Homo sapiens: one gene and its partners. The protein of the gene in region 2 purifies or fractionates together with the protein of the main gene of each other region. This does not show direct contact. Each region holds a gene or a part of one and is shown on either strand. Other genes may lie near its edges.

Region 1 (3,500 bases), on a different chromosome or scaffold from region 2:
AATTTAGTCATTTAAACTCAAGTTCTGTCAATTTATAATTACTCTCACTCAAAAAGTGAGAATAAGCCAAAATGTTATTTCCATTTTAAAAATGATATATCATACTTCATTAACACGGTTTATACTTAGTAGCATAATCCACGACTGATCTGAACCAAAACAACAACAACAAAAAGCAGGGAAGTCTCTAGGACTAGATAATTCTTCTCTATACAGTATTCAAAATATACCTCCTGTTTCTCCATGCATATGGCATTTACAAGCAGTAAAAGGTATCTGGTAAAGCAAAGTGAAATTCTCATATTCTGTCACATACTATTAATTTAGAAATGATTTGTAAAAAATCTGCAGAGGAAGAAAGGAAGGAGAGAGAGAGAAAGAAGGCAGAAGTGGCAAGAGAGAAGAGGGAGAGGGATCAGGATGGAAAGGAGATAGGGAGACAAAGGGAAAGGGGAAGGCAAGGAAGAAAGAAAATGCAACCACAAACCTGCAAATATTCTGATGTAATTTCTCCTGAAGTTCAATGAAGCTGTCATATCGATCTTTAGTAAACTTTATATTACGGAGAACTGCTGCTACCGCAAAAGGACGTATCTTAGCTGTCTGAAATTCATAATATCATTAGAGATAGCAAACAGTAAGGCTTTTCTTTGTAATATCTTGTAATAGGAAGGTAGCTGCATTCTTGCCACTGGCATACATTTTCATTCAAACAAGTATATATTAATTTATTCAGTCAACAAGTAATAAAGTGGTAAACAAGAGAAAAAGTCACTACCTTCACAGAATTTATATTTCAGTAAGATTTCTGAAAATGTATTAAATAATTGAGAAAAAGTTTGCTCATAATTCATATATTTACCAAACAACCCCTCTGAAAAGTTTAAAATCTTTTAAAATTTCATTAATGTTCCACAATTTAAACAATTATATCTCAAATGTGTTTTAAACATGCATTGGATATTATTATCCAAAATTATTTATGGAAAGCAAAGGCTTTGTTCTTTTTCATTCCTAGGTTAAAAAAAAATGTTTTTTTAAGGGCTAGGGGCTAAGTATATAATCATTTTAGCAAATGATCAAAGAAAATCACATTTTTTAGAAGGGTAAGCTTTGGACCAGGCACAGAGGCTCACAGCTATAATCCCAGCACTTTAGGAGGCTGTAGGGGAAGGATCCTTTGAGCTCAGGAATTTGAGAGCAGCCTGGGCAACATAGTGAAACCCCATTTCTAAACAATACAAAAAATTAGCTGGGTGTGGTGGCGTGTGCCTGTACTCCCAAATACTCAAGAAGCTGCAGGGGAAGGATCCTTTGAGCTCAGGAATTTGAGACTAGCCTGGGCAACATGGTGAAAACCCATTTCTAAAAAATACAAAAAATTAGCCAGGTGTGGTGGCGTGTGTCTGTACTCCCAAATACTCAAGAAGCTGCAGGGGAAGTATCCTTTGAGCTCAGGAATGAGACCAGCCTGGGCAACATGGTGAAACCCCATTTCTAAAAAATACAAAAAACTAGCCGGGTGTGGTGGCGTGTGCCTGTACTCCCAAATACTCAGGAGGCTGAGGTGGGAGGATCACTTGAGCCTGGGAAGCAGAGGTTGCAGTGAGCCAAGACTGCACCACTGCATTCCAGTCTGGGCAAAAGAGCCAGACCCTGTCTCAAAACAAAAAAAAAAGAGTAAGCTTTGTTTCTCTTTCCTCCCCACTTTATACAGACATGTACAAAAGAAAATTTTTAAAAGAAAAATAAGAATTTGTCCTTATTACCTCTTCTGTGATAATCAATTTCTGGATTTTTCCATCAGGCATTACCCGTTTATACACTGGAGCCTTTATCCTAAAATAATATTTAAATGAATTTACTCATAATTAATCAAGACATTATATAAAATAATTACATTCTATGCTGTATATAGGAAGTATACAAAATGAATTAGGGCAATGGGTTGAGTTACAGCAAGTCAAATTTTGGCTGAACACTAAAAAAAAAAAACAAAAAAAAAAACTAACAAACTTTTTAACATTTAAAGTTGTCCAAAAATGACATAAGATGCCTCATAGTAATGTATTTCCTATCACTAGCATCCCAGCAGAGGCTACAAACCATTAACTGAGCAACCGTTTAAGGAGCATTTCAACATCAGCTGAGGGACTGGATTAGATAACCTTTAAGTTATGATAGTTATTCTAACCATGAGATTCTGAGCTTCTAGGAAGAAACAGAGCTTATGGAAAATACAGATTCCCTGGTTCCATCTGGCCCTACTGAATAAAATAAGTGAAGACAAAGATTTGGTAAATGGTGCATTTTGAAGGCATCTCTAGGGAACTCTTATCATAGGGAGAAGTTGGGAACTACTGTTTTAAGGCAGTGCTTCTCAAATTTCAATGTGCTTACAATCAATTGGGGAGTTTGTTAAACCACAGATTCTGATTAATAGGTGTTGGGTGGCGACTAAGACTGCATTTCTAGTAAGTTCTCATGTGATTCAGATGCTGCTGGTCCATGGACTCACTTTAAGTAGAAAACATTTTAAGTTGCTTTCCTAATTCTGTCTGATCATAAAAATCACAAGGTGACTGGTAAAAATACAGATTCTCACTGGGCAGGTTTGGGAAACGAACTCTCAGGAGTTATCCTTGATCCTAAAATAAAAGCATCTGATTGTCCCATAGGAAACCAACTGAGTCAACTCTAAAATTTTAACCATCCTTAACCTAATGCCTAATTATCACCATTTCACCAATACCCATCACTCACCTAAACCCTCACAATTTCAGAATCTAGCCCATCAGTTAGAACTCTTATTCTTTTGCAGCTGACCAGATAATGAAGAAGTAATCAAAAATAAAAACAATTTTTAATAGCTGTTCATTTTTTTCACTGTATATATTTGTTATCCTCTATCTTTTTTTTTTTTTTTGAAACAGAGTCTCCCTCTGCTGCCCAGGCTGGAGTGCAGTGGTGCAAATCTCGACTCACTGCAACCTCCACCTCCCAGGTTCAAACGATTCTGTGCCTCAGCCTCCTGAGTAGCTGGGATTACAGGTGCACGCCACTATGCCTGGCTAATTTTCATATTTTTAGTAGAGACGGGGTTTCACCATGTTGGCCAGGCTGGTCTTGAACTCCTGACCTCAAGTGATCCACCAGCCTCGGCCTCCCGAAGTGCTGGGATTATGGGCATGAGCCACCATGTCCAGCCCCTCTATCTTCATTAAATGAAAAGCTGGAAGGGGCCTTATAAATCTTCTTCATTATAGATTAGGAAATTGAAACTAGAGAGGCCAACTAACTTGCTCAAGATCACAGAGCCGTCATAAGATCTTTGGTTTTTCCAGTTAGGAGGCTTCACTCCTGAGCTTCCTTAGAACTCATAATGTAAGGGTATTTATTGCTAGCTCTCCATTTCCTCTCAACTTTTAACACATCCAGTGAACTACTCATTCCAATTAGATCACGGAGGGGAATCACACACACCTGCTAAATAATTTTTT
Region 2 (3,500 bases):
CGGGTCACTGAAATGTATGCACACATCCAGCCCAGCCTGGATGAAGCCCAGTCGCCCCAATCCAAGCTGTTCATCCCCACGGGGCCCTGCCAGCCACTCTCCATCCTGTCTGTGGCTCTCCACCAAGGGGCTGACAGCCACACATGGCTCATAGGCTCTCTTGCCCTCCAGCACCAGTCGGGGCTGGCCAGTGGGAAGTGCCTTTCAGAGATGAGATGGAAGGGTGGGGGAAAGAAGCTGGGATATTTTTCCTACTCTATCCCTGCCCTGGGCATATTTTCTGTCAATAGCTGTGTGTTCATCCTCACCTGCAGCCCTGCCCCTCCACAGCTTCTGTGGGGTGGCCCCTTATCCAGAGTGCAAGCACTCTCTGGGTTCCAGAAACACCATTTTCACTTCTTCAGGACTCTTCCTGCTGTTAATAGTGTCTGTGCTTCAAATTGATTGATTCCCTTAACCTATGTGAATAACCCCCTTTCTACAATCTCTTGAACCATGGGAGGTGGACTGTGTTTCCTGCTGGGCACTAAGACACAATCTGTGGAGAGGAATGGGGCACTCAGAAGGTGTGGGGGCTTGGTCCTCTTACGGTGGTTTAGGAGAAGATAAGAAAAGTGACTCCATCTTTGTTAGCTGCCTCCAGTTACTCCATCTGCCTGGAAGAGGAGGTAGCCAGGGCTTAATACGTGGTAGGTGCTTGAGATAGACAGGTAGGTAGATAGATGGATGGACAGATAGATAGATAGATAAAATAGATTAGATAGACAGATTAGATAGATTAGATGATAGATTGATAGATTAGGTAAATAGATTAGATAAACATACAGACAGATTAGATAGATGATGAATAAGATAGATAAAATAGATTAGGTTAGACAGAAAGATAGATTAGATAGATAGATAGATAGATAGATAGATAGATAGATAGAGACAGACATTTAGGGACAGACACAGTGGCTCACACCTGTACTCCCAGCACTTTGGGAGGCTTAGGCGGGTAGATCACCTGAGGTCAGGAGTTCAATACAAGCCTGACCAACATGGTGAAACCCTTCTCTACTAAAAATACAAAATTAGCCGGGCACAGTGGTACGGGCCTGTAATCCCAGCTACTCCAAAGATTGAGGCAGGAGAATCGCTTAGAACCCAGGAGGCGGAGGTTCAGCAGTGAGCTGAGATCGCGCCACCGCACTCCAGCCTCGGCGACAGAGCAAGACTCTATCTCAAAAAAAAAAAAAAAACAAAAAAAAAACAGACATACAGACAGATAGATTAGATAAATAGATGATAGATAAGATAAACAGATAAAATAGATGAATTAGATTAGACAGTCAGACAGACAAGATAGATATATAAGGCCGGATGCAGTGGCTCACACCTGTAATTCCAGCACTTTGGGAGGCCAAGGCAAGTGGATCACCTGAGGTCGGGAGTACGAGACCAGCCTGGCCAACATAGTGAAATCCCATCTCTACTAAAAATACAAAAATTAGCTGGGCATGGTGACGCACGTCTGTAATCTCAGCTACTTGGGAGGCTGAGGCAGGAGAATCACTTGAACCCGGGAGGCGGAGGTTGCAGTGAGCCGAAATCACGCCACTGCACTCCAGCCTGGGCAACAGAGCGAGACTCCATCTCAAAAAAAAAAAAGATAGATATATGTCCAGGCACGGTGGCTCACGCCTGTAATCCCAGCACTTTGGGAAACCAAGGTGGGTGGATCACTTTAGGTCAGGAGTTGGAGACCAGCCTGGCCAACATAGTGAAACCCTATCTCTACTGAAAATACAAAAATTAGCCAGGAGTGGTGGTGGGTAGTCCCAGCTACTGAGGAGGCTGAGGTAGGAGAATCGCTTGAACCCGGGAGGCGGAGGTTGCAGTGAGCCGAGATCGTGCCACTGCACTCCAGCCTGGGTGACAGAGTGACTCTGTCTCAAAAAAAAAAAAAGATAGATAGATCAATAGATAAGATAGATACATAAAGATAGATAGACAGATATAGATAGATTAGATAGATAGGTGATAGATAGATAGATAGATAGATAGATAGATAGATATAGATAGATAGAAGCCGGGTGTCGTGTGTGGTGGCTCATACCTATAATCCAGCACCTTGGGAGGCCGAGGCAGGCAGATCACTTGAGGCCAGGAGTTTGAGACCAGCCTGGCCAACATCATGAAACCCCCGTGTCTACTAAAAATACAAAAAAATTAGCTGGGGATGGTGGCGGGCGCCTGTAATCTCAGCTACTTGGGATTACTTGTAGTGCCACTGCACTACAGCCTGGGCGACAGAGTGAGATTTTGTCTCAAAAAAAAAAAAGATAGATAGATAGATAGATAGATAGATAGATAGATAGATAGATAGATAGATAGATGATAGATAGATACAATTTTGTTTAAACCGGGGAAGTAGGAAGAAAAGAGGTCAGGAAGGAGGTTTCTGAAAAAGGAGGAAGGGAGACTAGCCACCAGTGATGGTGAAGTGTTTACAGGTTAGCATGCAGATGGGAGGCATCTAGGGGAAGGCTGCAGTGAGAAGAGTAGAATAGGAGTAGCCTCATACCAAAGAGTGGTTCCCACTGTCCCCCATCCCAGACTGACTGGGTCCTTGGTGAGCAGGGGATGAAAGAGGGGAAGTCTCCATAAACGATATCCCTTCTCTGGGGTCCAAATTCAGCTTACCCTGATAAGATGCCTGGGGAAGACTAGAGGCATTCTTGACCCTTCCCCATATGGTGGCTGTTTTGACTCCCCCAGCTCCATGGTCCTGAGGTATGTGCAGACAGCCACCTCCCTGCCTCCAGCTCCCTGTTCTGCCTCATCTCACCCCAAGGCTCTGCTAAGTGGAGGAGGCTGTGGGTTTCCAGCATGCTTGCTTTGGTGCTTTGGGCTTCCGCTGCCACCCCAGAGATCTGGCCTTTGATTCCCATACTCAGCGTCCCCAGAGGTGTCTTACCCTAGTACGGTAGCATCCTGTATACCAGCACTCCGAGAGAGGCTGGGAGGGCTCTCTGGTCCCTCAAGCCCTGGCACGTCTCTCTCTCTCTTTCTGTCTCTCTCTCTCCCTCCTTGCTTCTCAGCTCACATCTGTGCATTTCTGTATCTATGCTTCCCAGCCCCCAGCTTATGCCCCCAGCCTGCAGCTCCCTGTGTCTGTGTCTGTCTTCCTCTTTGCCTCATATACCAGGCGGCCGTGCTGGCTCTCCCGGGCTCCCCTGGAATGCCCCTTGCCTCTTCTCCTTTTTCAGCTTCCCCTCTCAGGCTGCCACTAAGCTCTAGCTCCTTCCGGTCTGTACACAGTCCTCCTGGCCTTTGGCAGCAATGCAGACCCTGGACAAGCTTTGATCTGTGGGGAGCCTGCCGAGCACGCCTGCAGCCCAGGGTGGATGTGAGGGAGCCGGCTGCAGGGTGGGAGGGACACATGGACAAAGGGAAATGGACAGAGTTCCCCAGAATGCACAGAGCCTCAAGGGAGGAGGGGAGGGAAAGATGTGGGA
Region 3 (3,500 bases), on a different chromosome or scaffold from region 2:
GCTTGCTGGATGATGGCTGCACTGGGCCAGCTCATCCCCATCACCCAGGTGACACTGAGCCAATGGCCAGTCATGTGAGTGTGGCCATCCCAGCCTATTCAGGCCCAGCCTAGATGACCCAAACCAGAACTGCTTAGTTAGCTCACAGAATCATGAAGAGCAATAAACTGTCATTTTGAGCCAATAAATCTTAGGGCTGCTTGTTATGTAGCAAAAGCTAACTGATACAAATGCAAAGGTTTCCTCTTAGAGAAAACAGCCCTGTCCTGTTCAGAAGTTGTGCCGGCAACTGAGTATTACGTGCAACATGTATCTAAGAGCTCCCTCAGAAGCCTTGGAAACTCCACTCCAATTTACAGCCTAAATCTGAATCTGTATGGTAGGGTGAAAAGAGTTATTTTATCAGCCCACAACAGAATCTTGGAGAGGGAGCTGCATCTTGCAAGAGGCCTGCAGGCAATCTACAGAAACTTCACATGGGTGAGGAAAATCAAGGGATGTGGTCATTTCCTCCAAGTGGGTTGACCTCAGGAGAGGAAACAGCCCTGGGGGAGGCAGATGACCCAAGGGATCTGCTGGGCAGGGGCTCAGGCCAAGAAGCACTCACGAGAAGGAAGGCCCAAGAATTGTCCCCACAGATTTCTTGGGGGAAAACACTGGGCTTCCTGAGGTCATGGGAAAGAGGCAGCACCAATTTATCTGTGTCTTGAGGCCTGAGTGACCTCAGCTGCACCTGGATACCATCTGTTACAGAAAAGATCCCGTGTCCAAACCAGAGAGCAACAGCCCCAGCAGGGCTGTCAAACACTCAGCAGAGTTTTAAAAAGAGATTTTCAGAGATTTTTTTCACATTAACAAACTCACAAATAGCTACATGGCCTCAGCTGTGGCTCAGACACGCACGTTCACCCACATATAAAAGCTAACATTTACCGCATTTTTCCTATGTCAGTTACCATACTCTCGATTCACACGTATTAATTCATGTAATCCTCATAGAGGATCCTGAGGGGAGGTACTGCTGTCAACCACAGGACAGTTAGAGGGGGCTGCTTCAACACTCTCCCGGGGATCCCACCTCACTTGGGGGAAAAGCTAAAGTCCCCGCCCTGCCCTCACCTCCTCCCATTCTCCCCCTCACTTACTCAGCTCCAGGCACATGGCCTCCACAATGTTTCTGGAACACGCCAAATAGACTCCTGCCTCCTGATCTTTGCACTTGCCATTGCATTTTCCAGGAACACCCTTCCCCCTGAAAGCTGCACAGCTCACTCCTCAGCTTCTTTCCCTTCCTCAGAAGTCACCTTCTCAGGAAGGCCTCTTCTGACCACCTAATCTAAAATTGCAACCGCCTCCCCACCTGCACACACGGCGCTTACCACCATCTGACAGGGTCTCTATTTTATTGATTCCTTTTCTTGTCTACCTGCCCCATGAGGACAGGCACTGTGTCTTTTTGGCTCACTGCCGTGTGCTCAGTGCCTGGTACACAGTAGGTATTCAGTAAATATTTGTTGATTGAAGGAGGGGAAACTGAGGCAGGCAACCACAGTCCGCTACTTGCCCAAGGGCCACAGCCAGCAGGTGGCGGAAGCGGGATTCCAAGCCAGGCCAAGGGACCGAGTCTGGAGGCTTTCCTAGTCACTACCTCTACTTCCCCATGTGCAAGTCCCTTTGCACATCAGAAACACACAACCCACTTGCACATGTGAGCACAGGGACACCCTTACGGCCCAACTGCACACTCACGTCTGCCCCAGTCCCCAGGATCCCTGCCAACGAGCCCCAATCCTCACCGCACCCAAATCCCGGGCCCCACATACAGGAACTTGCCGTCGGTCTGCGCCCCAGAGTAAAGTTTGCGCTCGGCCTCCTCACGCGTCAGGCTGCTGTGGTACCAGGGCATCCGCTCGTGGGCCGTCGTAGCAATGAGCTTCTCCACCTGCGGGGCCTGGCTGATGATGGCCTGCTCCAGGGCCTCGCCCTAGAAAAGGAGAGGCGAGGAGGTCTGTAGGTGTGGCCAAGTGCTCGCCACAGGAACCCCCTTCCGGGAGCCCTGTCCCAGAGGACTCCCCACCCCACCCAGGCGTCCCTAGCGCGTGTTAGGCAGGTTTTCGAGGACTACCTCCGCGCCATCTCCGTGGTCCCCTCCCCAATCCAGCTAGGGAGGAACCACCCCCACCTTCCAGCGCGGCCCCAAGCGCATCTCCAGCTTGAAGACCTAATTCAGGTAGTTGTGCATGGTGGTGTCACTCAGGCTGTGGACGACTACTGCCCATCTTCCCCAACAGCCACCCTACCCTAAGGGCTCACCCTAGCCCCGCGCACCCTCCTCTCAGCCCCGCCCCCATTCCAAGCCTCGCCTTCGCCCGGCCCAGTGCGTCCCTCTACCTTCCCATCTGGCATAGTAGAGCACCATAGCATCGCTCAGCCTGCGGAAGGCGACCGCCACCACGGAGCCCCTGCCTCTGAGGCCTCCTTTCAGGTTCTTCCCCAACCAGTGCCCCACCTCTCCAGCTTCCAAAGGGGACTGAATGGGGAAGACGACCTTTTCCTCCCTCCTATCCCCCCAAAACCCTCGACTGCCCCTCTTCGGCCACGCCCCTCCAGACCCCGCGCCCCAGGCTGCGCTCTCACCTCCAGCTTCCACGTCTGGCGCACGTAGTCACGCACCATGGCGTCTCGCAGGCAGTCGAAGACCCCCGGCTGCGGCTCGAGGCCCGACGGCCGGTTGCACGGCTTGCGCAGGTTGCAGGGCAGCCCGTCGGGGTCGCGCGAGTAGAACTCGCAGAGCTCTGCCGGTCCACAGTGCGCTTTGCCGCCGGCAATGGCGTAGGTGCCGTTGAGCTGGCGCTCGATGGGAAAGTGGTGGAAGCGCACATCGTGCACGAGCGACAGCACATAGCCGCCCAGCGAGCGCAGGCACTGGCGCAGCAGGAAGAGCCCGTCCGCCATGCCCGCCAGCTTCAGGTGCTCCTCGGCCTCGGCACGCGAGATGCTGCCGTAGAAGAAGGGCAGGTGCGCCGCGGGGTCTGGCATCGCCCCTGGGCCTCCCGAAACCTGCGGGTTCACAGAGGGTCGGAGGCACGTCAGGGCCTTCCTGAACCTGGTGCGTTGGGCCCAAAGACGGCGCGAGAGACGCCAAGTGGAGGGCATCAGTGCCGCAGACTGAGCTCGCCAAGGGGGCAGAGCCTGCTCTGTGCCAGAGTCAACCTGGAGAGAAGCCGCAGCCTGCTGGGCACAGATCGAGAAGTCCCAAACCCCCATCTGACTTTCCAGAGACATTATGTGGACGCCCAAGCACGCCAACTGGTCCCCAAGCACCCACACCTGTACCCATCTCTTCATGTCCCAACCACGTGCTGAATTATTGTGTTTCAGGCCCGGTGCTGGGGATATGCACGCTTGAGGCAGGCGCGGTCCCACCCCGTCCTCCCGAAGGCAACACTCTAAGGAGGGAGAGCCGTGAGATAAACTGAGAAAGAAACAAAAATAATAAT
Region 4 (3,500 bases), on a different chromosome or scaffold from region 2:
CATTCACAGAGGTGAAAGTGTAAACATAAAATGCCATAAAAATATGAGGGGCTGGCTGGGTGCACTGGTTCATGCCTGTAATCCCAGCACTTTGGGAGGCCAATGTGGGAGGACTGCTTGAGGCCAGGCATTCAAAACTAGCCAGGGCAATAGAGTGAGACCCCATCTCTTAAAATATATATATATATATATATATATATATTTGACTCTTGCTATTCTTGCAGGGATCATTTTCATCTCCTATACTCAGCCAGGCTTTTTTACCCTCTCCTGGATGCTTTGGAAGGTGGTGCAGGGCTGCAGGCCTTGGCCAAGCCCCCCTCCCTTGGGGAAATGGCACTGTCCTTTGGGCGGGTTGCAGCAGGTGGTATGGGAAAGTCATCCACACCGCTCCCCAGGGTGTATGTGGCCAGCACTGGATTTTGCAGGGAAAGCAGCTCAGCCTGGACCAGGGTAGGCATCTGACCTGAGGTTGGGGCTGGGAGCTTGGTCTCAGTCCGGGGTTGGCAGCTCACCCTCTACTTTTTTCTCCACAGGGTGCCAAGTACCGGGGCTCCATCCATGACTTCCCAGGCTTTGACCCCAACCAGGATGCCGAGGCTCTGTACACTGCCATGAAGGGCTTTGGTGGGTGCCAGGCTTCATGGGAGCTTGAGGGGTATCCCCCAAAAGTAGACACAGCCCAGAGCCCTTCTGGTGGTGGTGGTAGGGTCTGTGAAATGGTGAAGTGCACTTATTCATTTTTTTGGTCTCCTCTTTTTATTAATTTTCATGATGTTATAATAAAATGTTTCAGAAAAAAAGTATAAAGAATAATAGAAATTTCACCCATAGATTTACCACCAAATTTAAGAACTAGTGCTTCATTAGCATAGTTGAAGTTTCCTTGGTAGATCCCCCTCCTGATAATGCCGCCCGCTGCCTTTGCCCAGAGGCAGCCACAATCCGAAGGTGGTGCTTATGTTCTTCTTTGTCTTGTGGTGGAAAGAACCCTGTACTGGGTGTTAGGATACCTGGGTTTTCTAAGCCAGGTTCATTGTGAGACCTTGGACAAGTTCTTGCCCCTCTCTGGGCCTTAATTTCCTGATTTGTGCAGTGAGGAGCTGGATCAGGGGCCTTCTGAGCACAGATATTGTGTGTGCTGTGTCCACTTTCAGTCGTGACTTAATAAATCCCCATGACCCTCTGCCCTGACACCAGCACCTGATGAGTGGAAGGCTCATGCTGAGGCCTGCAGGGAGCTACTAGGCCTGTGTCCAGGGAAGGAAGTGGCCCTGGTGGGCTTCCTGGAGGCAGGGTGGGTAGGATGATGATTGCTCTCCCCTATTCCAGGCAGTGACAAGGAGGCCATACTGGACATAATCACCTCACGGAGCAACAGGCAGAGGCAGGAGGTCTGCCAGAGCTACAAGTCCCTCTACGGCAAGGTAACCACAGCAACCGGAGGGCCCATGGGGTGCGGGTGGAAGAATGATTTCATTCACCTGTGTGCTCGTTCAGGTTATTTCCTGGATATGGCACTCCAGGTTAGCCTGTGGGCTGACACCTTACCCTGCTCTTTTTCTTCTCATCAGCTGGGCGTCTTTCAGCCTTTAATACACCCACAGCACCTGCTGTATGCTGGGCTCGTGCTAGGTGTTAGGGCTGCACTAGTGAATAAGATGGGTGAGGTGTCAACTCTGTGGACTGCCAGATAGTGAGAGAGATACACAGTAAACGAGGAAACAGACAGTGGTGGGGAAGTGGCACAGGGCTGTGGACCTGACCCTGCATAGCCGTTTGCTAGCAGCATGACATGGAGTAAGACCTCTGTTGTTTCTGAGCCTGTCTCTTAGGGTTGGTAACAGTACATACCTCCAAGGGTGATGATTTAATGAGATTACTTAGCCCAGCACCTGCCAGAGTAAGTGCTCATTAAGTGTAATTCTTACCGTTGTAACTACTCTTCCTCTTTCCTCTTCTATCTCCTCTTCTTCCCCACCTGCCAGGACCTCATTGCTGATTTAAAGTATGAATTGACGGGCAAGTTTGAACGGTTGATTGTGGGCCTGATGAGGCCACCTGCCTATTGTGATGCCAAAGAAATTAAAGATGCCATCTCGGTAAGAAGTGGGGGTGTATGTGGTGTTGGGGTGGGGATGTGGTTAATGGGAAGATTCTGGGCTCTTCCAAAAGCAACTGGTGAGCCCCATACCCACCCAGCACATGTGTCCTGCTTCAAAGACACATCTAAATTTATCCCAGAGGAGCATCCCGATCCGCACACAGAGAGATGCAGACAGATGTCAACATGATGCAGACCCCCTTACCAGGAGCTTGTAGTCCAAGGATACAGGTTATAGGGACATGGAGACAAATTGTGTCCAACACTCCTGAGGCCAAGGGCACACTAAAGGTAATCAACATGACCCTGGGCCAAGGGTTGTTTGAGAGGGCATCTTAAAGGATAATAGGATCAAGTTAAGCCCCAAAGCCCAGAGAGGATTTGGTGGATAGCAGTGTCAAGGTCATTGCAGGGTGTAAAAATGGCAGGAGAAGTTGTGGATCTGTGTTTAGGGTATGAAGAGTAGTTCAGCCCGGTTGAGGTAGAGGTAGAGAATTGCCCCCTAGGAAAAAGAGAGGCAAAGCCCTTTAAGTGTATCTAGCACTTTACAGTCTATAAAGTGCTATGATCTTTGTCTTCTATGAGCTATTAAGCATGAATTCATTTTATAAACTGATGCACTTAGCAATGTGAGATTATTATCTTCTCAATCTCCCTGTGAGTTTGGCAGAGCAACTAATATCATCTACATTTTACAGATGAGAAAACTGAGGCCCAAAAAGATAGTTTCTGAAGAGAATTCACAAAGCTGGAGGAGGCAGAACTAGAACCTTTGTGTTTTAGTCCATTCTCACATCGCTATAAAGAAACACCTGAGATTGGGTAATTTATAAAGAAAAGAGGTTGAATTGGCTCATGGTTCTGCAGGCTGAACAGGAAGCATTGTGGCTTCTGCTTCCGGGGAGGCCTCAAGAAGCTTCCAGTCTTGGCAGAAGGCAAAGAGGGAGCAGGCATCTCACATGGTGGGAGCAGGAGCAAGGCGGGAGGTGGGGAAGTGCTACATACTTTTAAACAACCAGATCTCACAAGAACTTACGATCGTGAGAACAGTAGCAAGGAGATGGTGCTAACTATTCATGAGAAACCGCCCCCATGATCCAACCACCTCCCACCAGGCCCCACTTCCAACATTCAGGTCTACGATTCGACATGAGATTTGGTGGGGAAACACATCCAAATCATATGACCATGTCTTATGAGTCTCAAGGCAGGAGTTCCCAATCAGTGCCTAAGAGCTGGGTAGGAACCTCCTGAGTCCTGGGGTGTCATAGCTCTGGCCACTCCCTGATCCCAACCTGTGTCCAGTGACCTCCCATCCCTGCCCTTAATTCATGCGCTCTTTTTCTACCCCCAGGGCATTGGCACTGATGAGAAGTGCCTCATTGAGATCTTGGCT
Region 5 (3,500 bases), on a different chromosome or scaffold from region 2:
GGCGACATCAGGCAAAGGGCGAAGGTCTGTAGGAGGGAGCGGGGAAGGACAATTGTCAGACATACAGCCTCTGCAAAGCTCTGCTTCATGGCCTCCCACTGGCATCTACACCCCACCTCAGGACAGGAGTATGCGCCCCTTCCTGACCGCTGAACTCACAGGCACACACACCCTCAAAGAGACACATGCCCTCCCACCATCGACCTACTGGCCTACTGTACACACGCACACGCACACACACATAATCTATCTTTTTTCTTTTTCTTTTTCTTTGTTTTGAGATGGAGTCTTGCTCTTGTCACCCAGGCTGGAGTGCAATGGCGCAATCTCGGCTTACTGCAACCTCCACCTCCCGGGTTCAAGCAATTCTTTTGCCTCAGCCTCCCGAGTAGCTGGGATTACAGGCGCCCACCACCATATCTGGTTAATTTTTGGATTTTTAGTAGAGATGGGGTTTCACCAGGTTGACCAGGCTGGTCTTGAACTCCTGACCTCAGGTGATCCACCCACCTTGACCTCCCAAAGTGTTGGGATTACAAGCATGAGCCACCGCACCCAGCCTTATCCTTTTTTTTTTCAAGACAGGGTCTCACTCCTGTCACCCAGGCTGGAGTGCAGTGGTGTGATCTTGGCTCACTGCAGCCTCAATTTCCCAGGCTCAGGCAATCCTCCCACCTCAGACTCCCAAATATCTGTGACTATAGGCATGCACTACCATGCCTGGCTAATTTTTTATATTTTTTTGTAGAGATGGGGTTTAAGCCATGTTGCCCAGGCTGGTCTTGAACTCCTGAGTTCAAGCAATCCGCCTGCCTCAGCCTCCCAGAGTGTTGGAATTACAGGCATGAGCCACCAAGCCCTAAATAGACACATTCCTTCCAGCGTCACCTACCCCCCAGTGCTCTTCTTACACACCCACCAAATCTGCCCTCAGACAGGTGCACAAACACACACTCATCTACACACTGCCTCATCTATCTCCAGACAGACTTAAATGTGCAAATCTATCCTCAGGTGGGGTTGAGGAAACCTCCATCCTCATTGAATTGATTGACACAATCAACTCTCTCTCTCTCTCCCTCTCACACACACAGATAGGCATGGATACACAAATCTACTACAGTGGGCACCTCTATCCTCAGATGAAATTGGGTACATTGCTTCCTTCAGAACCCCCTCAAGCTTCACATGCTCCCGGTGGTCCTGAACCCACCCTCCTCCTGCAAGACCTTGCTTTAAAGCCAGGGGGAAGGGACGAGCTTCTGTGTGGGGTATTCACATAGAGGCACACACTCACATCCACAAGCACGCTCATGCAGCCCCTCCCCACCTCACTCTGGCCCCTAAACCAGCCACCACCCCTGGCCTTGCCCCAGCTCCCTGCCCAGAACACCCACGGGAACAGGAGTTGGCTGCCTGACATCAGCAGTAGCCGGTGTAGTTGCTGGGCAGCGGGGGTCTCCATGGGAACGGCTGGGCCATGAGTACTTCCTGTCACAGCTGTCCCTGTCCTGCCCTTGCTCAGGGACAGCACCAGGCAGTGACCCCCCCCCACCCCCAAGGGACATGGCTAAGCAACACTGCCTGGGACAGGGGCTCCCCTGGCACCACCCACTATGGCTTGGCCTCCTGCCAGTGCCAGGTGAGGAGGGGACAGCTCTGTTGTTAACCCTCAAAGTGCCAAGGCTCTACAGCTCAGAGCAGAGTTGGGGGACGCAACATGGCTCAGAGCAGAGCATGGGCACTGGGTGGGTGAGGCTGGGTGCTGGGCAGAGTCCCACAGACCCCAGACCCCAGAGCAGTTCCCACATACCTGGCACTCTGCCTCAGGGCCTGCTCCGGCCAGCCGGCTCTGCGCGGGCACAAAAAGGATGAGACGGGCATGAGATCGCGCATGGAGGGGCGGGGTGGGGGTGGAGGGCACTCTGAGACCTAGGGCCTGGGAGGTTAGACAAGGGCCCGGGAGGTTAGACAAGGGCCCTGTGCCTGAGGCAGGGGAGTGAAACCTCCCATCTTTTGTGGAGCGAGGAGGCTTTGAGTTGAGGGAGTGGGTGGGACCCGAGGACAACTCCAACTTAGAGAGTCTTTCCATCTCAGGGGTTAGCTCGTTCACTCTCCCCCTCCACAGGCTGCCATGGACGACTTCACACATGCACACGCACTGCACACACACTGACGGCACACCTCACCATCCATTCCCATGCCGACCTCTGCGCTGGCTCACACCTCCTTTTTGCCATCACCCTCCAAATCCCTCCCAGACAGGCCTTTCTCTTCACCAGACCTCCTACCGCGCTCTTCCTCAAAGAGGTGCCAAACCTTCTCCCACTCCTCACCCCAGCATATCGTCACTCCATTCTCTGAGCCCCCTGTAGCATCCAGGGCCCAATCTCTATTCTCAAGGCCTTCCCAACCTTAGAGGACCACCACCCACCTTCTCAAGGTTTCCTCACCATTACGTGAGCTTTCTGGCCACCACACTCAGGGTCCCTGTTCCCAGGTGGCCGTGTAAACATGGTGCCGAATGCAACAGCTTTGGAGTCAGAGAAACCTGGGTTTGAATCCCTCCCAGGTCTGTCACGTTCTAGATGTATGACTTTGGGCAAGTGACTTAACCTCTCTAAGCCTCAGTTTCCTCCACTGTAAAGTGGGTGCCATAAAGTTCTCAAATCACAGAGTGGTTCTGGGGATTAAATGCGTGTATACCTGAAAGCCCTCAGCACGGTGATGATGACTGAGCACATAATAACTCAATACATAGATGATTTGTTTAAGGCCTTGTCACCATTCCCAGGCTTCCACTCATTCCTGGGGTGCCCTGACCATGGTGCTGCGCCTCACCATTCTCGGGGTGCTCCATCTCTCCTATGCTGCCATCAGGGGTGGTGCGCTCATAGTGATCCTCAGGCAGGGCCAGGGGACCGAGTCGAGGCCCTGAGGATGACTTGCTGGACGGCGTCTCAGACTCCTCCAGGCCACTGTCATAGTAACTGTGCTGGGATGGGTCCTGCAGCTCCTGGGCCTGGCTGGTGGCCGAGAAGGTGACGCGGCGGTGAGGTAACTGCAGGGAGACAGATTGTCACTACTGACCAGCCAGCTTGCCCACAGGGCCCACCACCATACCAGGCCCTAGTACAAGCCAAGCACCATCCTACTCAGGCTTCAACAGCAACCAAGAAGAGACCCAGGCCCCAGCACAGCACATTCCTCCCGAAAGCACAGGCCCCAGTGAAAGACAGCTCCTGAGTTCTAGGACCGCTCCTAGTACAGCCAAGTCCACATACTGGAAGTCCCAATACAGCGCAGGCCCCAGTGTTATTATAGCCCCTATGCTACCCCAATAACCCTCATCCAGTGCAACCGCTTGTTATAGCACAACCCTTCTAGTTCTAACCCAGCTTCCCAATATTGGCACAGCCTCCCTTTAATCCCAGAATGACCTGTAATACGGTGTAGAGCCCAATACCAGAGTAACATAATACCACCCGACTCCCCTAATT
Region 6 (3,500 bases), on a different chromosome or scaffold from region 2:
AGTCACAGAGCACTGAAGCTGGAGGCGGCCTCAGGAGCACCGAGCCCTTAGAGCTCCTGGGGAGGATGAACACGGCCCCACACTCCCTGCCTGGGGAGGACGGACGTCATCCCACACGCCCTGCCCGGGGAGGACAGACGCCACCCCACACTCCCTGCCTGGGGAAGTCGGACGCCGCCCCACACCCCCTGCCTGGGGAGGACAGACGCCGCCCCACACCCCCTGCCTGGGGAGGACGGACGCCGCCCCACACCCCCTGCCTGGGGAGGACAGACGCCGCCCCACACCCCCTGCCTGGGGAGGACGGACGCCGCCCCACACTCCCTGCCTGGGGAGTGAAGTGGCCCTGGGGGCGCGGTGGGGGTGAGGACAGGAGCGAACCCCAGAGCAGAGCAGGGCAGGGCAGAGTGGAGCGTGGCCCGTCTGTCTCAGGGTGGACCTCAGCATGGAGGGTGCCAAGGGCAGGCACACCTGGCTATGGCTGGTCCCCCAGGTATGGTATCACACTTGATAATGGCACGGGGGACCTCGGGGGTCCAGGGACCACACCCAGAAGATGGCGGGGAACTGGCCAGGACGAGCCTCTTTCCTGAGTGTGGGCAGGGTCTGCTTCTGGGACGCCGGCTCCTAGAGTCCCACTAAGTTTTCTGCCAGGTCACTAGGCAATGGCAGAAAACAAGACAGCTCCACTTGGGCCACAGACCTGGACACCCTGCAAGGACACTGCCTGGCCTGCAGGAGGGAGCTGGTTCTTAGCCCACTTCTGTGCCCCCTGCAAGCTACTCTGTCTCCTCCAGGCCCCGAATGCTGCCCTGCTGCATAGCCAGTCCCTTCTTCCTGGGGGCACCTCCAGGACAGGCTCTTTCTTGGCCCTTGGGAATGGCCCACTAGACACGCTGGTGGGGACGCAACCATCCAGAATTGTTTCAGCCATGTCTCTCTTCCCCAGGCAGTCCCTGCCGCCGTATCTTGGCTTACGTCTCAACCAGACTCTTGAACATGGTGGCATAAACCAGCAAAAATGAAGCCGGCCCTCTGTCTTTAACCCGGGCGCAGCCACATGACATGTCTGCTGATGCCTGCCAATGGGAGAAGAGGGGTGGCTGGGAACAGACCACCTGCTCAGGAGTCAGAAAACCCTGACTCCAAATCTTTGCTGCACTACTCGGCTCTGCAACTCCAGACAAATCACCCTCTCTGAGCCTGTCAAATGGGACGACAACGAGTTTTGAGGAGTAGGTGTTAGAGCATCAGGCCTAACGAAGGAACTCCGTAGACACCTCCTCTCTTTACCAGAGACAACCCGGGCGCTGCAATGCCTGAGGCCATCAGCGCGTGTGAAAAGCAGGGCTACAGCAGACTCCAGACATGGCCAGGGCTCTGGGGCCACCCTCACGACAGCAACAAGTGCGATGGCAGCCACCCCCACCCCCACCACAGTGGGGAGTATCCCACTTGGTTCACACCACCGTCCTGTGAGACAGGAGGAGGAAACGGAGGTGGGGGGCAGGGGACTGTGCCGGGGGCCCAGGTCACACAGGGAGCAGCGGGGGAGGGGATTGGGGAAGGGGTGCCTGGGGTCAGGCCCAGGGGCAGCAGTTGGGTGGAGGCACAGCAGCTCCTAGGGCTGCTACACATAGCTGACAGCAGGCAGCTGAGCACTCGACTCTCCGGAGCAGCCCCAACCCCAGTCCCACGGGCCCACCTGGTGTGCGTCCTCTGCCCGCCAGTGCCCTGCCGACGGGCCCGTGGTGAGGGAGGATGGCGGAGGAGAGGGGTCCAAAAGGAACAGTCGCAACTCTGTCATTTAAAACCCTCCCGGCTCTGAGGACACACCTGTCTTCCGTATGCTGGTACCAAGCAGGCGACTGTCCTGCCTCTTCTTGAATACCCACAGGGACGAGGACTCACTAAGCGCATGACAACCAAGTGTCCATTCTGATGACATCTGGAGTATGTCCCCAAAACTTCAAGATGCTAGGGCAGACCTGCTTCCTCCTCTGGGTGACAGAGCCTCCTGCTGTCCTCCGGCCCCTTCCTGCACCCAGAGCCCCTGCCTTGGCCCTCCCTCTGGCGTGCCAATGGCATCTGTGACAGCAAACTGAGACCACGGCCAAGGGCGCATCTGTGCTCGGAGGATAGCCCCCCGCAGGCTGTGCCCAATGGGCCCCTTGGCCAAAAGCCAAGGAGTCAGAGGCGTAGCCCACAGCACTGAGGCGAGCAGCCACCATCCCTCATGAGGGTTAGCCCCCCCAAACACTGAAGCCAGTGGCCACCTCCCTCATGAGGGTGAGCCCCCAACACAAATCCTAAGCTTTCTGGGCACTCAGGATGCTCGGGGAAAGGCTCATTTTGGATATCCAGATTAAGCATAATGCAAATATTCCCAAATCCAAAAACAAAATCCGACATCCAAAACACTGCCGCTCTCAAGCATTTAGGAAGAGGGATACTCGACCTGCATTAGGAAAGAAACAAACGTACCATTGAGGTTGCGTATGAGTCTCGCTTCCTTCTCCCCATCTTCGTCCAAGCCGTCAAGCTTTAGTTTCTTCCAGGCGAGTTCGTCCCTCTCCTGTATCTTCAGATCAGCGTGGAGCTCGGCCAGCCTCACGGGAGGAAGATGCAGCTGCGAACGAAGGGGAGGAGCCTGTGAGCCACGAGCAGGACGGACCAGGACACAGCGAGAAACTGACCTCGGAGGAGGCTGGCCACCGGGAGGTTCTGGGAGACCAGGAAGAGGTGGAGTCAGGGTCACTGTCAGCAGGATTCAAACCCCACAGGTTTAGACAAGAACTCAACATGGACACCAGTCTCTAGGCCTGTCTGTATACACGATCCGGAAACCCCAAGTCCATCGGGGGCTCCCCACCAGCAGCGGCTGCTCATTCCTGTCCGGCTGTAACAGGACACCCCACCCTAGCACCTGAGGACAGTCATCGGGCACTCGGATAAACAGAGCAGGAAGAAGATACCCACTGCATTACCATTGCAGATACATATTGCAAGGACACAGACACCTAGAAGTTCTTTTTTAAAAAAAATCACTGTAATCTCAGATCTGCCCCATCTTCATTTCCCAAAGACCCTCAGTCACCACCTCTCAAGTGTACCATGATCCGAACTGTCTTGCTGAGACGGTTCTTACACAGCCCCAGATCCTTCTGGAGCAGGAATCTGTCACCCTCTCACTTACCTGCTGGCGTAGACCACACAGGCAGCGCCCCGGAACGAGCTGCCGCACTGGGGCTGAGGAACTTCCCCGCCCCACCCTCATCCCTCTCCGCAGGGCAGGCCACGCTTCATTCATCCCACCCCTGCCCTCCCAGCTCTGGGACCCTGGGTGAGAGAAGGAAGCAAGTGAGGTGACCGCTGGGCACACTGCTTTTTGGTTGCAAAGACAGGATTTAGGCCAAGAGTGTCCCCACGTCAGAAAGACTGGGCCAGAATGCCAGGCGGCCGAGGCAAGCAGCAGAATGAAACCCACCGGCCAGCTCTCA
Region 7 (3,500 bases), on a different chromosome or scaffold from region 2:
ATATTCATCAGAACAGAGAGCGCTCTTTGAAGTGATTGGATGCATCCATGCTCAGACAAGCTCGGTGGTCAAAGGGAAATTTTAAAGAGTGGCCCTGGAAGGAGTTAGCAAAGTTGCCTCTTCCTCTCTCTGCTCTGCACATCCCTCACAAACTGAATGTTATTTCTTTGGTTTGTTGTGCAGATGCAAGTAATTTAACTGTACTTTTTGCCCCCTGGGAGATGTGGGAAGTACAGTTGCTTTTACAGGATGGAGAATTTGCACTCATGATCAGAGAACTGAAACTTCCAGCCATCCTTTTTATTCAGAGTGTTTAAGGACCGGTGGTATTTCCAAATAGGCAGTAGGGCTTGTTCATGCTCTGCTTGTTCATTCTGCTTGTTCATTAATTGTTCACTACTTTTCTGAGTAGAGTTCATTGCTCTGTGATGTCGTGACAGAAGCTTTCATTTCCCCAGAAAGAGGAAGAAAACAGAAGTGCCCCCTCCAAATGGCATAGCCTTCACAACATTCAGTTTAAATGTTTTTAAGTATCTTAAAAGAGAAGAGTTATATATTGCTAAGTGTGTTCTTAGAATGTCTGTAGTTAGCACTTCTTTCAGGCTCTAGTTTTCTGGTTTTTCACTTTACATAATAATCCTCTATGTATTTAGGATCTTTATTTTTCACCTTTCCCGTTACCATATTTTTATTTCCTTCAAAATTCGAGGGAATTGCTTTTTCTCTCTACCTTTTTTAGATCAGTTTCCTAGTCTTTAACTGAGGTGTTAAAGTTGGAGTTTTTACTGGCAAGTCTTGACTGAGCACAGTGTTAGGCTCTGTGAGAGAGAATATGCATTTTCTATTTTCACAGAGCCACAGTCCAGGTGAGGAGATAATGAATTTGCATGCGAAAAATGAATATGTTGTGAGCTGATACAGACTTTTGTCAGGCCAGTCTTTCATAAAGAAGTATTTGGAATGGGCTTTGAAAATGCCTGAAATTCCAAAATGAAATAATATGAAATAATATTTATTAGTACGTATAGGGGCTGGGTAACATGCTCAAAGTTACAGAGGCAGAAAACCATAAGGTGTCTCACAGAAACTGAATATACTCATTTAACTGTGACAGATGGCTCATGCGAGAAAGTAGCAAAGGAGAAGCTTCATTCGTTCTATTAGTGTTAGAATGTGCTATGGAATCTGGATTTTATTATGATTGCAAAAGGATGGTATTGAAAACTTTGGAGTGGAAAATGACATTCTGAAGTATTTTGAGAATATGAATCTGCCTGTGGAGTACAGAATGGACATAGGTAAGAAGAGGCCTGGGGCCACAACTTTGTCAAAAGGGCACAAATAGAGTCTGAGAGAAAGAGGGTTTGAGACAGAATGGAAACAATGGGAAAGATGGAATGGACTCTGGAGGCAATGAACTGAGAACGGATCTGACCTCTGTGGCAAGGGGAGAGGAGGTGAGTGATGGGCTGTAAGAGAAGGTGGTAAGAAGACTCATAGATGATTCAGTCACACATAACCATAATTGCACCCCTGTTACCTAGGTGCTAGGTGATACAAAGAGATTAATCACATCAACAAAATGGTTAGGTAGACAGAGTAGGTATTTACAATGAAAAACTCAAAGTAGTCTCACATTGAAGACAGAGTGAGGCAATGAGCTCTCAGGAGTCAAGAGAAATATTCCTTGAAGTTTGGAGTCACAGAAGCATCAGGGAAGAGATGGAACATGAGCTGAATGTTGAATGATGGGTAGAATTTGGAAAGAATGACAGGGGCAATCAAAGCTGTGGGATGAGGAGGTTAAAGCAAAGACACAGGACTAAGAAAACACAAGGAGTGTTTGTGACACATTGACGAGGGCCATCTGGTTGGAACAGAGTTTGCATAAACCACCAAAAGAGGAAAAGGGGAAGGTAGGGTGATACGTTTATTCTGGTAAAGGTTTAGACACCAAGCTAAAGATTTTATTTTTATTTCTGAGATAGTCTCTCTCTGTCACCCAGGCTGGAGTGCAGTGGCGCTGTCTTGGTTCACTGCAACCTCCACCTCCCGAGTTCAAGCTATTCTCCTGCTTTAGCCTCCTGAGTAGCTGGGACTACAGGTGCCTGCCACCATGGGCAGCTAATTTTTGTATTTTTAGTAGAGTTGGTGTTTCATCATGTTGGCCAGGCTGGTATTGGACTCCCAAAGTGCTGGAATTACAGGCGTGAGCCACTGTGCCCTGCCAAGCTTTTATAATTTAACCTGGGAAATGTCAAGCCACTGACATTTTTCAGCAAGGTTGTGGCCAGTGTCAAAGAGTCTTTCGGGAAGTTTGGTTTGTGGAAGATGTGTAGAATATATCAAGATGAAGAACTGGGTGACTTCTAGTCAAAAAGGAATGATGATATAAACCAGGTACCAATCAGAATGAGAGGTATGGAAGAGGGGCAAAGGAATTACCAGTAAACCAAGGGGAAATAGAAATACAGTTTTACCCAAAGTTTCAAATCCAGGAGGCTATGATAGCAACTGTGCTGTATACTAAGGCATACAACTCATGAGATGACTGGTTTGGTAACAGTCCTGAGCGTTTTGTTTTAAAGAGCTGGGTCCTGAGGTTCCAGACAAGCAAACATGCCAAAAAAGTGGTTCAATGGGGGGGCTTGAGGCTCAGCTGGAAACCATGTTTACCATACCAAGTTTAAAAAATCCACACAGCTCAGCAATTGTTTGAAGTTTTTAATTAATTAATTAATTCATAAAGTGAAGTATTTTCAAAAGCTCATCTGAGAGCTTATATTCTCTTGATACAGATGAATTCTCAATTGCTCTTTTGTTTTCATTGCAAAACAGTTCAACTTGTATGAGACTCAAAGTGGGGAGGGCAGGAGCAGAATTTTCTCTGTTCCGGGTATAGACATTATGGGTATTGGGCCATATTCTCCTCTTCGTTGGTAATAATTCCTATTTTATACATCTTTCTATCAATTGCAGCTCCTACCAGAGTCAACGTCTTGATTGTAAATACTCAGTGTTGGTTGATTTGCATTTTCATCATAGTCCTGAAAGATAAAAGTGGACCTAAGAAAAACTAATAAGCTTACAGCCAGTTTTATAATGACAGACTCTATATAAACAAATGCAAATTGGATGTCAAATTTGAATTACAAAATTTATTTGAGCAAGGTCCAGGAAGTAATAACAGTGTCTTCAGATCTTTTCTAAAATGATAAAAATTCATTAACAATCTTCCATGGCTTGGAGTCTCAGAGACTTTCAAAAGTCACAGCACTTTGAAGAGCAGAGTTGGCAACTAAAGTTATCAGAGTGAAGAATGGCATGCTAACCTCAGGTGCAGGATGGCCAACTCAAAGTAGACCTCTATTCTTTGTTCTTCTGAGATAGGAACTAGCCAGAAACTTAGTTATTCAGGGGTGGGGTGGGAAGGCTGTGGGACCCAGGGTGGAAGGACCCACACAGTTCAAAATAAAACGAACCAACTATAGTGAAGGAAA

Evidence for each region.
Region 1: the proteins of CD4 (region 2) and FARSB purify together in Homo sapiens (affinity purification with mass spectrometry, with the first as the bait; one large-scale study listed by BioGRID). This does not show direct contact.
Region 3: the proteins of CD4 (region 2) and ZAP70 purify together in Homo sapiens (affinity purification with western blotting, with the first as the bait; one study listed by BioGRID). This does not show direct contact.
Region 4: the proteins of CD4 (region 2) and ANXA6 purify together in Homo sapiens (affinity purification with mass spectrometry, with the first as the bait; one large-scale study listed by BioGRID). This does not show direct contact.
Region 5: the proteins of CD4 (region 2) and PCDH1 purify together in Homo sapiens (affinity purification with mass spectrometry; one large-scale study listed by BioGRID and IntAct). This does not show direct contact.
Region 6: the proteins of CD4 (region 2) and LRPAP1 purify together in Homo sapiens (affinity purification with mass spectrometry; one large-scale study listed by BioGRID and IntAct). This does not show direct contact.
Region 7: the proteins of CD4 (region 2) and MME purify together in Homo sapiens (affinity purification with mass spectrometry, with the first as the bait; one large-scale study listed by BioGRID). This does not show direct contact.

What each region holds. Positions count from the first base shown.
Region 1 is NC_000002.12:222,639,093-222,642,592, forward strand, and holds part of FARSB (phenylalanine--tRNA ligase beta subunit), read right to left. Parts: intron 1,840-3,500; coding exon 1,770-1,839; intron 604-1,769; coding exon 488-603; intron 1-487.
Region 2 is NC_000012.12:6,792,528-6,796,027, reverse strand, and holds part of CD4 (T-cell surface glycoprotein CD4 isoform 1 precursor), read right to left. Parts: intron 1-3,500. UniProt on the Homo sapiens protein: Integral membrane glycoprotein that plays an essential role in the immune response and serves multiple functions in responses against both external and internal offenses.
Region 3 is NC_000002.12:97,723,576-97,727,075, reverse strand, and holds part of ZAP70 (tyrosine-protein kinase ZAP-70), read right to left. Parts: intron 3,061-3,500; 5' UTR 3,040-3,060; coding exon 2,638-3,039; intron 1,985-2,637; coding exon 1,824-1,984; intron 1-1,823. UniProt on the Homo sapiens protein: Tyrosine kinase that plays an essential role in regulation of the adaptive immune response. Regulates motility, adhesion and cytokine expression of mature T-cells, as well as thymocyte development.
Region 4 is NC_000005.10:151,137,280-151,140,779, reverse strand, and holds part of ANXA6 (annexin A6), read left to right. Parts: intron 1-536; coding exon 537-627; intron 628-1,332; coding exon 1,333-1,427; intron 1,428-1,988; coding exon 1,989-2,102; intron 2,103-3,458; coding exon 3,459-3,500. UniProt on the Homo sapiens protein: May associate with CD21. May regulate the release of Ca(2+) from intracellular stores.
Region 5 is NC_000005.10:141,854,411-141,857,910, forward strand, and holds part of PCDH1 (protocadherin-1 isoform 2 precursor), read right to left. Parts: intron 3,062-3,500; coding exon 2,842-3,061; intron 1,853-2,841; coding exon of another isoform or gene 1,827-1,852; exon of another isoform or gene 1,814-1,826; intron 27-1,813; coding exon 1-26. UniProt on the Homo sapiens protein: May be involved in cell-cell interaction processes and in cell adhesion.
Region 6 is NC_000004.12:3,522,423-3,525,922, forward strand, and holds part of LRPAP1 (alpha-2-macroglobulin receptor-associated protein precursor), read right to left. Parts: intron 2,630-3,500; coding exon 2,485-2,629; intron 1-2,484. UniProt on the Homo sapiens protein: Molecular chaperone for LDL receptor-related proteins that may regulate their ligand binding activity along the secretory pathway.
Region 7 is NC_000003.12:155,111,319-155,114,818, forward strand, and holds part of MME (neprilysin), read left to right. Parts: intron 1-3,500. UniProt on the Homo sapiens protein: Thermolysin-like specificity, but is almost confined on acting on polypeptides of up to 30 amino acids. Biologically important in the destruction of opioid peptides such as Met- and Leu-enkephalins by cleavage of a Gly-Phe bond.